3 separate regions of the Homo sapiens genome follow, and regions 1 and 2 are each linked to region 3. Evidence: fine-mapped expression QTL. A gene starts in region 3. Each other region holds a variant in brackets. All regions are shown on one strand. Distances are from middle to middle. Region 1 has its middle 42 kb from the start of PTK2. Region 2 overlaps PTK2 (protein tyrosine kinase 2). Region 3 holds the start of PTK2 (protein tyrosine kinase 2).

What was found.
Region 1: its variant is fine-mapped to the expression of PTK2 in fibroblasts (GTEx, PIP above 0.99).
Region 2: its variant is fine-mapped to the expression of PTK2 in whole blood (TOPMed, PIP 0.95).

What each region holds. Positions count from the first base shown.
Region 1 is chr8:141,041,580-141,045,927 of GRCh38, forward strand. No RefSeq gene overlaps it. Among named protein-coding and RNA genes, the nearest start is that of PTK2, 42 kb to the left of the region's middle. RefSeq lists an enhancer at 1-660. The variant T/C (reference allele first, on the strand shown) is at 1,835.
Region 2 is chr8:140,688,712-140,692,711 of GRCh38, forward strand. The region is part of intron 29 of PTK2 (protein tyrosine kinase 2); the gene reads right to left. Among named protein-coding and RNA genes, the nearest start is that of MIR151A, 42 kb to the right of the region's middle. The variant G/C (reference allele first, on the strand shown) is at 2,488.
Region 3 is chr8:140,998,976-141,003,323 of GRCh38, forward strand. It overlaps PTK2 (protein tyrosine kinase 2), which reads right to left and starts at 2,307. Exons shown (of 36, transcript NM_001352702.2): 1 at 2,150-2,307. RefSeq lists silencers at 1,972-2,301, 2,322-2,741.

The sequences.
Region 1 (4,348 bases), 43 kb after region 3:
CATGTCAGGGCATGAGAGGAACAAAGTGGATGTGGAGAGAGGTGGGGCCTGACTCCTACTCACCCTGGCAAGGTGTATGGTGCTGAGTTACATGCCCTGAAGAGTAACTGTGGTCTGTGCAGGGCCTCAGGCTAACCCTCATTGTTAAAGGGAGCGAGCCCAGCCCTGTGGTATGGCTGTGGCCCTGGGGATGACCTTCTTTGCCCAACCCCCAACCGCATTCACAAGAAGCTGCTGCCGGGCCAGATGTGCAGGATCACACCTCTGAGCAAGGGTGGCACCCGACCATATGGTAGGTGTGTGGCAGAGCATTGGCAGGCGAAACCCAGGCCCACAAAAAGGCCGCTCTGAGCTTCTCCTCTCTCTAAACAGGAGGCAAGAAGGAGGGAAAGTGAGAGAGAGAGGAAGGCAGGAAGGAAGGGAAGAGAGAGAGAAACAGAGAAAGAGAAAGACAGAGAGAGATAGGGTGGCCTTCCTGCTGATCTGGGAGGCTCCAGTAAGAGTAATTTTAATATTTAAAATCGATGTTATTTGTATCTTAAGCCGGTAAAGTTGTTCACACCTATTTAAAATAAGCAAATGCCTCAAAGGGTAGCCTCCCGAGTAGCTGGGATTACAGTGCAGGAATTGAATGAAATTCTTTTTTTTGTTCTTGTGTTTTTGAGACGGAGTCTCTCTCTGTCACCCAGGCTGGATTGCAGTGGCGTGATCTTGGCTCACTGCAAGCTCTGCTTCCCGGGCTCACGCCATTCTCCTGCCTCAGCCTCCCAAGTAGCTGGGACTACAGTCGCCCACCACCACGCCGGGCTAATTTTTTGTATTTTTAGTAGAGACAGGGTTTCATTGTGTTAGCCAGGATGGTCTCAATCTCCTGACTTTGTGATCTGCTCGCCTCGGCCTCCCAAAGTGCTGGGATTACAGGCGTGAGCCACCGCGCCCGGCCTGAAATTCTTGAAATTATCCAATACAGTGCACGGCCCAAGGAGGGTGCCCAGAAGATGTTTGTCTCTTTTCTATTCCTTCCCTAGCCTGTACTCCCTGAGCTGAGCCCAGGGCCTGACACCCAGTTGGTGCTCATGCAATGTCTGTTGAATGAACGAGCAACCTGGGTACTGTTTCTGAACCATGAGGGAGAGAGGCCTGGGACCCTCTGACCCTGGGTTCAGCCCCCTGGTTGCCTACCTCGAGCCAGCCCTGAGCCAGGCTGGGTTTTCTTGCCCCTGCCAGGCCCGGTTGCAGGCCTGGAGTAGGGGCTTTCTGCTTGCTGCAGGCACTGGGAGGGGCCAGGGTGTCTCTCCAAACCTCAAGTTAGACAGCCTTGGTTGGAAGGGTTTTTGTTTTCTTTTGTTTTTTGTTTTGTTCTGAGACTGCGTCTTGCTCTGTCTCCCAGGCTGGAGTGCAGTGGCTCAATCTCAGCTCACTGCAACCTCCTCCTCCCAGGTTCAAGCAATTCTCTTGCCTCAGCCTCCCGGTAGCTGGGATTACAGGCGCACACCACCATGCCCGCTAATTTTTGTATTTTTAGTAGAGACTGGGTTTCACCATGTTGGCCAAGCTGGTCTCCAACTCTTGACCTCGTGATCCACCCGCCTCAGCCTCCCAAAGTGCTGGGATTACAGGGGTGAGCCACCATGCCTGGCTGGAAAGATTTTTTTTATGTCCAGCTCTCTCACTTGTGAAGCCATATAAAGGCCTCCCCTGTGTCTCAGTGTGAGGGAGCAGGGACTCCACATGCTAAAATATACAGTGATGACACCACATGTGGTCCAAAGAAAACAACATATAGAAGTCCAACTAGTTCTCAAATCAGCACCATGTCATCAAGCTTGAACTA[T/C]CTTGTGGTTAAGGTTGGTTTGGGTGGCCTCCAAGGGAAGTTCAAGTTGCTTTGGCTTAAGAGATTTGTCCATGCCTGTGTGTGTGGTTTGTGTGTGTGTATCGTGTGTGTGTGTGTGTTGCTATTTGTGGTCCTAAGTGAATGACAAGGCTCTGATTCAGCAGCCCTTACCAGACAGTGACGTTGATGATAATTTCCATTTTGTACAGTGCAGCTTTTCTGTCTCCAAATCTTATTCATATGGATGAACTCATTTGAACATTGCAATACCTAGGAGATGAATGGTTGTAGTTTTATAGATGGAGAAACAGCAGCTTACACAGGTAACTCAGCATCACAGAGCTGGGTCATGGTGGCCAGGACGTGAACCCGGGCTCCATGAGTGATGCCTCTGTTCTGTCTTCAACATTGTACAGAGACATCTTGGCAGGCACTAGGCTAAGACGTATGTGGGATAGCTGGGCAAGTGAGATGGACCTGTCCTAGGAAATTTACATTTGATTGTGAGTGAAGGACAGGTGAATCTAATGATCTGGAGTCACAATGTACATTAACTGCGATGATGACATAATTCACCATGTGTGATAAGAATACAGAGCACCAGATAAATCTGGCAGGGGAATCCAGGAAGGCTTACTGGGGGAGGTGTCCTGTGAACTGGTCTTTCTGCCAATTAGGATTTCAGCCAGCTACATATGCCAGCAACTATCCATAGCGGCTTGCCCATTAGAGACTTACTGTTCTCACAAAGCAAGAAGCCTGGAGGGAGGCAGTCCAGGGCCGCAGCAGCCACTCGAGAAGGCTGTGAAGGATGCGGCTCCTTCCAGCTTCCCACTCTACCCTCTGTAGAGCGTGGTGCTTGTCCTCATGCTGCGACATGGCAGCTCTATTTCTAGGCTTTGGGCTTACAGCCCAGGAGGGAAGGAGGAAAGGGTAAGGGTTGAAAAGCAAAAAGTCAGCCAGGCTCACACTGGCTGAGTTGGTGGGCTTTTGAGCTAGGCCCCAAGGCCACTCCTTACGGCAAAAGAGATTTTTGACCTGAGCATGGCAGAACAAAGTCAGAGCTTAGTAAGGATATTGGGAGGGCACTGGGCAGTGTCTGCCTCATCTTTTTAGCTGGGTAGGAACCCAGCAGGCAACAGGTGCGGGGAGAGCCCACAGCGAGGCAGTGGGTGGGGAAGTGCAGGCTCCATGGAAACAGGAGGTGGTTCACTCTGGTCAGAGGGATGTAACATTTCTGTGTATGGTTGTGTGTGCCCATGTGCCCACCTGCACCTATACATGTGCACACACAACACGTAGTCACGTATGCACACACGTGTCTATGTGTGCATACACATAGGTGTATGAGGGTGTGCAGGCATGCATGTGTGTGTTGCCATGAGGAGGTGGTGATTATAATGGGGGATAAATAATGAGCTTGATCGTGAAGGCCTTAAGAAGCTCGGGTTGTGGCCGGGCACAGTGGCTCACGCCTGTAATCCCGGCACTTTGGGAGGCCGAGGCAGGTGGATTACCTGAGGTCAGGAGTTCGTGACCAGCCTGACCAACATGGAGAAACCCCGTCTCTACTAAAAATACAAAATTAGCTGGGCGTGGTGGTGCATGCCTGTAATCCCAGGTACTCACGAGACTGAAGCAGGAGAATCACCTGAACTCGGGAGGCGGAGGTTATGGTGAGCCAAGATCGTGCCACTGCACTCCAGCCTGGGCAACAAGAGCAAAACTCTGTCTCAAAAAACAATAACAACAACAACAGAGAAAACTCAGATTGTAATCCCAGAACTTTGGGAAGCCAAGGTGGGTAGATTGCTTGAGTTCAGGAGTTTGAGACCAGCCTGGGCACCATAATGAAACCTCATCTCTACCAAAATACAAAAAAAGAAAAATAGCCTGGCATAGTAGCCTGTGCCTGTGGTCCCAGATACTGAGGAGGCTGAGGCAGGAGGATCGCTTGAGCCTAGGAGGCGGAGGTTGTAGTGAGCTGAGATCGCGCCACTGTATTCCAGCTTGGGCAACAGAGTGAGATCTTGTCTCAAAGAAAAAGAAGAAGCAGCTCAGGCTGATTCCATGTTGAGAGCCCCTGACCACACCGAGGAGTGGCTTGGTGAGATTCCAGCGGCAGTGTGGCGGAAATTGAGGGGCGGGGAGCTGGCAGCAAAGAGATCAGTGAGGGGGCTGTTAGCAGGGGTGGCTCAGAGCCACAAACCAAGAGCTGACATTTTCAGAAATGCAGCCCCAGATAGGAGGACTTCAGAACCTTTTCTGCAGGCGCACTAGGAGGTGGCAAAACCTGGTGGCCATGCCTACGGGCTTGGAGTCAGGCTGCCTAGGTCCAACCCAGCTCTACCAATTTATATGTGGCCAGTCATGACACTCTCTGGGCCTCATTCTCCTATGTGTAACTCAGAGAGAATCATTTTGCCAACACCCAGGAGATGCCAATGAGATTACTTGAGCAGAATGAGTGACAAAGTGCCGAGTACATGTTACCTATTACCATGGTATTGCAGA
Region 2 (4,000 bases), 310 kb before region 3:
TCTGCTCTGTTAGAACTCTCTCAATGAGTAAACCAGAAAAGTTCAGAATAAATATTTCTGAACTCTGAAGAGCATAACTTAAAACATTGTACTGTGTTTATATGTACTATAATATCAAGGAACAATAATTTAAAAAATGAATTCTTACTGCAGATGTGATATATATAACTAATGCCCATACAGGGGAAGTCAAACCTAGAGGCATGCAGTTGGCGACTATGGCAGAAAGTATGCTGTGTTTTTTACCAGAGAGGACTATCCCATTAGATATAGACAGCTGTGGCTGGGTGTGAAATATAGCTCAAGAGAAAATTCAGAGGTAGGTAGTTCCTGACTTCTAGGATAGAATCTTCTCTGACAGGTAAGATAGACATGAATAGACAGAAAGGAAACCAAGCAAACACACGTAATACATTGATTCCAACTGGCAACTGAAGGGGAACTCACTGGGGAGGTCCTATTCCATGTAGCAGAACTCACAGATCCTATTCCATGGAATGCTGAGGTTCTGCCACTGCCTGAATGAAGAGGCAGCTTTGTGGGGCCCAAACATCCCAGATATGCTTAAGAAAAAATATTCCAAAACACAATGGACTTTGAGAAAAAGTACCTGAGAAGACGAGACTCCAGGTTGACAATTCACAGAACATTACTCAATGTAAATATCAAGGTCAGGAAAGATTTCGGGAAGACCCAGGAACTGTTCAAGCTTAAAGGAAACTCAAGAGATGTGATAACTAAATATAACTCATGATCCAGGACTTTTTTCTAGAAAGGGCATTCTGTGGACAACTGGTAAAATATGAATAGTCCATTGATTAGCTAACAGTATTGTATTATTGTTAATTTCCTGACATTGGTTAACTCAGCTATGGTTATTTAAGAGAACATCCTTATTTTTAGGAAATTCACATTGAACTATTTAAGAGTTAAAAAGCAGGATATCTGGTATTTACTTCCAAATGGTTCAGAAAAAATGGTATGTACAAATATGCAAAGCAAATGAGGTCAAATGTTAACAACTGGAGACTCTAGGTAAAGGGAACATGGGAATTCTTTGTACCATTCTTGTAACTTTAAAAAACTCTGAAACTATCCTTTCCTCTTCTGCCCATTCACTTGAGGGACCAGCTGGGAGCTGGTTCTGCTTAGGGGTTCTGTTGAAGGGCTCTAAACAGAGAGTGGAGGTGATTAGGTTTGACTCTACTGTAGCAGAAAGGACAAGTTTTTATTTTCATTTTTTATTTATTTATTTTTTTGAGATGGAGTCTCCCTCTGTCTCCCAGGCTGGAGTGCAGTGGCATGACCTCAGCTCACTGCAAGCTCTGCCTCCCGGGTTCATGCCATTCTCCTGCCTCAGCCTTCTGAGTAGCTGGGACTACAGGCGTCCGCCACCACGCCCGGCTAATTTTTTGTATTTTCAGTAGAGATGGGGTTTCACTGGGTTAGCCAGGATGGTCTCGATCACCTGACCTCATGATCTGCCCGCCTCGGCCTCCCAAAGTGCTGGGATTACAGGCGTGAGCCACCGCGCCAGGCCAACAGTTTCTATTTTTAAGAGACAGGGTCTTGATCTGCCGCCCAGGTCAGAGTGCAGCGACTATTCACAGGCACAATCATAGTGCATTACAGCCTCGAACTCCTGGCCTCAAGCAATCATCCGCCTCAGTTTCTGGAGTAGCTGGGACTATACATGCACGCCACCACGCCCAGTTAGAGCTATAGTCTAAGAAAACAAAAGACCCACCAGGCCCAACTTACGATGTGGTCATTTAATAGTTACATGATTTTGGTTATTTTAAAATATTGTATACCTCATTTGTCAATAATCTAACAAAAGAAACATGCACTTACTGTAGAAAAATTAAGATACTGCAAAAATAGATGAAAAAATTACAAATCACTCAACCTTACCATTTGGAAGTAATTATCATTAGTTATTATGGAGTAATTAAAATGTAAAAGTAATTATCATTAGTTAATACTGTGGTGTAAATGTATGTTTACAAACATGGAACCACAACATATGATTCTACAGCCTTCACATAACATTTATATAGGGCAAACTGACAAAACAATGTTTAAGGCTGCACAACGTTCCACTGCATGATTATCATCATAAAATAGACAATGGTAGTGAAGGGTGGGAGCTGTGGCACCAGGTGGCCTGGGTTCTAATGAGGATCCAGTCCTTACAAGCTGTGTGACCTGGGCCTCAATTTCTTCATTTCTAAAATGGAACAGTAATTGTAACCAACACATAGGATTGTTAGGAGGATGAAATGAGTTAATATTTGCAAAGTACTAAGTTGGTGCCACACAAGAGTTAAAATAAATAGTTCTTTTATTGTTGGATATTAGGGTCATTTTCAAAATCCCTCATAAATAGGCTGTAGATGAACACCTTTGTATACAAATCTTTGACTAAGTCCCTGATTATTTCCCTGGGACAGATTTCTTTTCTTCTTCTTTTAGAGATGGTTGGGG[G/C]TGGGGGGTCTCACTATGTTATCCAGGCTGGTCTTAAACTCCTGTGCTCAAGTGATCTTCCTGTCTCTGGAGCAGATTTCTAAGAAAGGAATTACTAAGTCAAAGAGTTTGAACATTTGAAAAATCTTGGTATAAGTTTCCAAACTGCTCAAGGCTGTCCTGATTTTCATCTATGTAGCAATATGTGATAGCATTTCTCTCACTGTACCCTAACACCACTGTATTATCATTTTAAAACTCTCAACCAATTCATAAAGAAAATACTGTATAATATATTGTTGTAATTTGCTCCTCTCCTCCTCCCTTTCCCCAAATAGTTGACCATTTTTGTTTCTTATCATGAGATGCTAAGTTCCATGAAGACAGAGGCTATGAAGCTGTCTGCCTCACCGCTGCGTCTCTGTTACCTGCTAGAACACCGGACAAACAGGTGGAGGAAATGAATGCCCTGTGCATTTTTCTAGTGAACTGATTGTCCATGCCTCTTTGGACAAGGCATATAACCTCTCTAGGCCCAGTTCCTCACCTGTAAAATAGGCAGAATAATACCTCAGTCAGTCATTATCAGAATGAAAGAAGTGCCTGGCAGCATTGTGCACATAGATGTGTAGTAAATATTTGCTGAAGGAATGCTTCAATTAATATCCAAGGCACAAGAGATATGTTATAGACGAGGAACTTGACTTAGAAAGATTTAGTTGCTTGGGGTAACACAGCTCTTAAACAGTGGAGGTGGGCTTCAATCAGTCAACAGATAATAAGAACCTTCTACAGGCAGGAAATATTTACTGTTTTACTTAAACAAAAAATGCAACTCATATTTTTGCCTATAGAATAAGGTATTGTTTCATGTGTTTACATGAATTAATCTATTTTTATTTCCATATACATTTCATGAAATGACTTTCTTTAATGCATAATTCCCTAATGTGGTATTTTCCTAAAGACAGGATTTTAATTTTAAAATGAGAAAGGCTTATCCATATAAAATCTACTTGTGTTCTGTGAATGAAATAAATACTTGAGCTTTTTCTTTTCATAGAGCATACACGGACCTCCTGAATGAAAGATGAGTGCCTATTGGGAACTGAAGAGCAATACAGCCAAAGACAGCCAATCAGAAAGAATAGATTCTCAGCCAGGTGCAGTGGCTAACACCTGTAATCCCAGCACTATGGGAGGCCGAGGTGGGTGGATCACCTGAGGTCAGGAGTTCAAGACCAGCCTGGCCAACATGGTGAAACCCCATCTCTACTAAAAATACAAAAATTAGCCGGGCATGGTGGCAGGCACCTGCAGTCCCAGCTAGTCGGGAGGCTGAAGCAGGAGAATCGCTTAAACCCGGGAGGCGGAGGTTGCAGTGTGCCAAGATTGCGCCATTTCACTCCAGCCTGGGGGACAAGAGTAAGACTTCGTCTCAAAACAAACAAAAACAAACAAGCCAAAAAAAAAAAACAGTTCGGCTTAGCTACAGTCTCTACTTTCATGTGGGTATGGCTCTAGAAAACTTCAA
Region 3 (4,348 bases):
TATAAAACGTTTTAATGATCCTCACTGCCTCCTCACAATTTCACTGCTGGATTCATGGAACTTCACTCCTAATCTAACATTATTCACTTTCAATGGGCTTCCAGCCTCAAATAATAAGGCTTTTTAAGTCCCATCTCCTCTCAGAGTTTGCCCCAGTATTCTTTGCCCCAAACCGTAAACATGGAGTTTTGATTTCCATGTCTTTATTTAACCAATGACTTGCTTCTTGATGCATCACCACTGAATGATGTATGGGTCCTTCTAATCAGCGTCTACACTGAAGTCTTAGGTGATTGTCGGCTCCCTTATAAAGGAAGCATGTGTTTTAAATAATCTGTGCCTGTGTTCATTATTAAACTAGATTATTTGATAGTGACCTGAAATTCTTTAAAGGAAAACCTTGTAATATTGATCTTGTTGTTTCTGCAGTTTAATAAACAAGAAGGTTCAAAATGATGGTAGGTTCAGCCTGTTTTTCCCCACCAAGGATAACCACAAATACAAAACACAAAGATATTGGGACACAAACATCCTTAAAATGTTCCTTGTTTGAATATCATAGGGCTTTTCTAATTAATTGGCTAGTATAACTGGATGAAAATATTATCTATACTGTACCCCAACAAAAATACGTTGAATGCTAGTTTACTTTTATGTGTCTTGTAACTAGTTCATCCGTGTGCTTGCATCGCACTGCTCATAAGTTTTCAAATATGGGACGGAGTGCTCAACTCTCGAAGACATCATTTTCATTACCCGTTTCCCAAATAAAATATTAAGGTTGAGGCTCTGGTATTTCATTTCAAATAGTACTGGTCTGTTTTTCCAGCCATGAAAACGTTTACATTCTAAGTAAAAATCCTAGCGATGGTTAAGTCTTAAATACAAATCCCCAAACTCTTGCACTGCCTTCAGCTTTCAGCTTGAATGTATAACCAGTTCCCATAATTACTACAATATTACTATTATCTTAGTCTCATTGCCAAAAACCCAGCTGCAGGCTAACTATGCAAGAATGAGACACTGTTGAAATGACTCGGAAAAAAAAAAAAAAAGAAACTTTACCCTCACTGAATTTAGCTACAAAATTCTGCAATTAAATGAAACCAATTCACACACACACACACACACACACACACACACACACACACCCCTTCTTCTAAGAAAGAACAGGATGCCGCTACACAAGGAACCCAGAGAGAAATTCGGCAAACAGTTGCGCCTAAGCCACCGCGGCAGAGTCGGGGGCTGGGGGCGGGGAAGAGGAGAAAACTTGGGAAGCACAATGACTCCAGTGAGGACTTCAGTGAGGGCTCCAGGGCTCCCGCCAAGAAGCCCACGGGGCTCTACCAAACTTGAGGGTTTGCGTTCGGGGACACGGCGGGCTTGGGGCTCGGGCACCGGCAGGCCGCTCGGAGCCCACCCTTGGCTGCCCGCGAGGCCGCGCCCGGGGGACGGAGGTCGGGCCGTCGCGAGCCTCCCTCTCGCGTCCGGGCGAACCCTGCCGACGTCCCTGCGATTTCCCTCTTCCTCCTCCTGCCTCTCCCCTTTTGTTTTTCAGGCATTGGGTCCGCTCCGGCGGAGGCCGGCCCGTCCTCCCCGCGCCTCTGTCCGCCCTGCGCGCCCCCAGAGCCCCGGCCTCCTCGTCTTCCTCAGGCCCCTCGGCCTCTCCGCGCGCCCGGCCTTTTCGAAAGCCGCCCCCCCCTTCCTCCTCACGTCTCCCGGACTCCCCACGTCCCCCAGCCTTTCTGTCTTCCCCGAACCCCTTGGCCTCCCCGCGCGCCCCCAAAACCCCCGACCTCCTCGAGCTCCCGGCCTCCCCACGTCCCTCAGCCTCCCAGTCTTCCCCAAGCCTCCCGACCACCCAGCGCCCCGAACCCCCGCCTCCCAGCGCGCCCCCTGACCTCCTTAAGCCTCTCGGCCTCCGCGAGGGCCCCCAACCTCCTCACGGCCACCGGCCTCCCCTCCTCCCAGAACCCGGGCCGGGGGCGCGGGAGGGGCCGGTCTCCGCCGCATCCGCCCCGGGACTGGTTGGGCGGCCCCGCTCTGCCCCTCCGCCCTCAGGGCCGCGGCCCAGCCCACGACCGCTGCACAGAAGGAGCCCGCCCAGCCCCCGACCCGCGCCCCGCGCCCGGCGCCCCGCACTCACTCGGACCGCGGCTCGGCGCCGTGAAGCGAAGGCAGACGACGACGGGGCGGCGCTGGGCGACAGCAGCCGCGCTTCCTCCCACGCCTCACGCCGCGGGCTCACAGTGGTCCGGGACCGGCGGCGGCGGCGGCGGCGCGGGCTCGCGCCCTCGAGGCCGTGCTGCGTCGGCGCGGGCCCGCGCGCGTGCGCGGCAGCCGGCTGAGGCGCGCGTCCTCTCTCGGCAGCGCACGCCCGACCCGGTCTCAGTCCGGAGTTCCCGCCTCTCGGGGGGACTGGGCATGCGCGCCGCCCCCGCGCATGCCCAGCGCGCCGCTAGGCTCTGCTCGCGTAATTTGTCCTGTAGTGACCGCGCCGGGGTTTCGGGGTGGCCCGAGGCTGCGCGCGGGCGTGGCGGCCGGACGAGGAAAGCCCTGGTCTCGGGGGTGGCCGGGGTCGCCCCGCCGAGCGGACATCCTGGGGTCCCACCTGCCTCGCTCTCCGCCAGCGGGATTAGACGGACTTCGGGAAAGTCCTCCCCATCTCCTTCCCTGCCCCCAAATCCCGAAGGGGTCCCCTCTGGAGAACCTCCCTCCTGAGCGGCCCTGCGGCCCCGCCCCCAGAGTTGGACGCCCGCTGTCGGGCACCCGCTGCGGGCCCCGGGCCTTGCAGTGCACTCTCCAGGCACCACACCGACCCTAACGAGCGGTTCCTGGGCCCTTTTTGCAGACAAGGAAACTGAGGCTCAGAGATTCTTTTCATGGCATTATAGCTAAGTTGGGCTGGGCCATTATTTGATTTTGGAAGATGAAAAATCATGAAAGGGACTTAGAAGTCCACTGGAGGTAGACAGGTTACCTAAATGAACGCCAGCAGGGAACGAGCCCTGCAATCCCTCCCGAGGGCTACAGACCTGAGACGGGCTCCAGGAAAAGGAGGGAAGGCTCGCCCCGACACCGACCCGGGCTTCCGCGGTGTGAGCCAGTTTCAGCGAGGAGCTAGTTGGTTATGACCGGAACGTGCCGTAGGTGGGGTGGGGGAAATAGCAAAAGGCGAGGTTGGAGGGATTGAAAAATGCAGACGGCTGCGTGGGGCTTGCTTAGGTGCCTGGAGTTTATTCTTTAGGCAACAGGGAACCTTTGGAGGGCTTTAAGCAGGAAGTGATAACTGATTTGTGTTATTTAAAAAAAAAAAAAAGTCACTCTGGCAACCTTGTGGTCGGAAATGAAACCAGAAGAACCCTCAAGGCTGCAACTTTCATTTTTATGGTGTCATTTTGATGCTAACCACAAGCCAGGAAGCAGGACAGACAGGCACCGAGGCCTTTTGAAAGGTGAACACCCTGAAGCCCAGAGAGGTGACACACGTCATTGCATTAGGAGCTTTTATAAAAGTAAAAATGAAGTAAAATAAAAAGCTTTTGCTTATCAAGATTTTACCATATTTAAATGTTTGGGTTGTATTGTTCTTTAATGAGATGTATTAAGGTTGGTGTTTTTCTGGGTTTTGTTACTTTTTACTACATATGAAATTGTAAGGAATTGCCTCTCCATGCCAGCCTCAGGCCTTTGCGCGTGCTATTTGCTCTGCCTGGAACTTCTTGCTCCTCACTTCGTTCAATACCCTGCTTATATATCACCTCATTGATACAGCCGACCACTTCATATAATAGGAACCACCCACTGCCCTGCTATCCTCACACACAGTCCGCACTTAGTCTGCTCTGTTGTTCTCCAAAGCACCTATTGTTCACCATAGCCCAACACTGTGTTCTTGTTTATTTCTTGATTGTCCGCTCTCTCCACTAGAATCTTAGATTCATTAGAGCACGGGCTTTGTTTTGTTCACTAATAGGTCCTGGCACACAGTAAGTATTTGTCAAGTGAATGAACGAAGCTTTGGGTGATGTGAAGTGAGAGCTTATTATTAAAAGGATAAGAAAAGCATGGGAATTAAAAGAGGAGAGTGGAGGCACAAAGGGACTGCATTAAGGATAACTTTGGGGGAAGGGGCTGCACTTAGCATAGTAGACTAAAAATGGCCATCAATTCTTTGACACTTTTCCCAAGAAGAGGTGGAATTTATTCACCCCTTGAATGTGGATGGGATCTTGTAACTTGCTTTGACCAATGGGATGTGTCACAAGTGACATTGTACAAATTCCAAGCCTAGGCCTCAAGAGGCCATGCTGCTTTCATTTTCCCCCCTTAAGCCCAAGCTAGC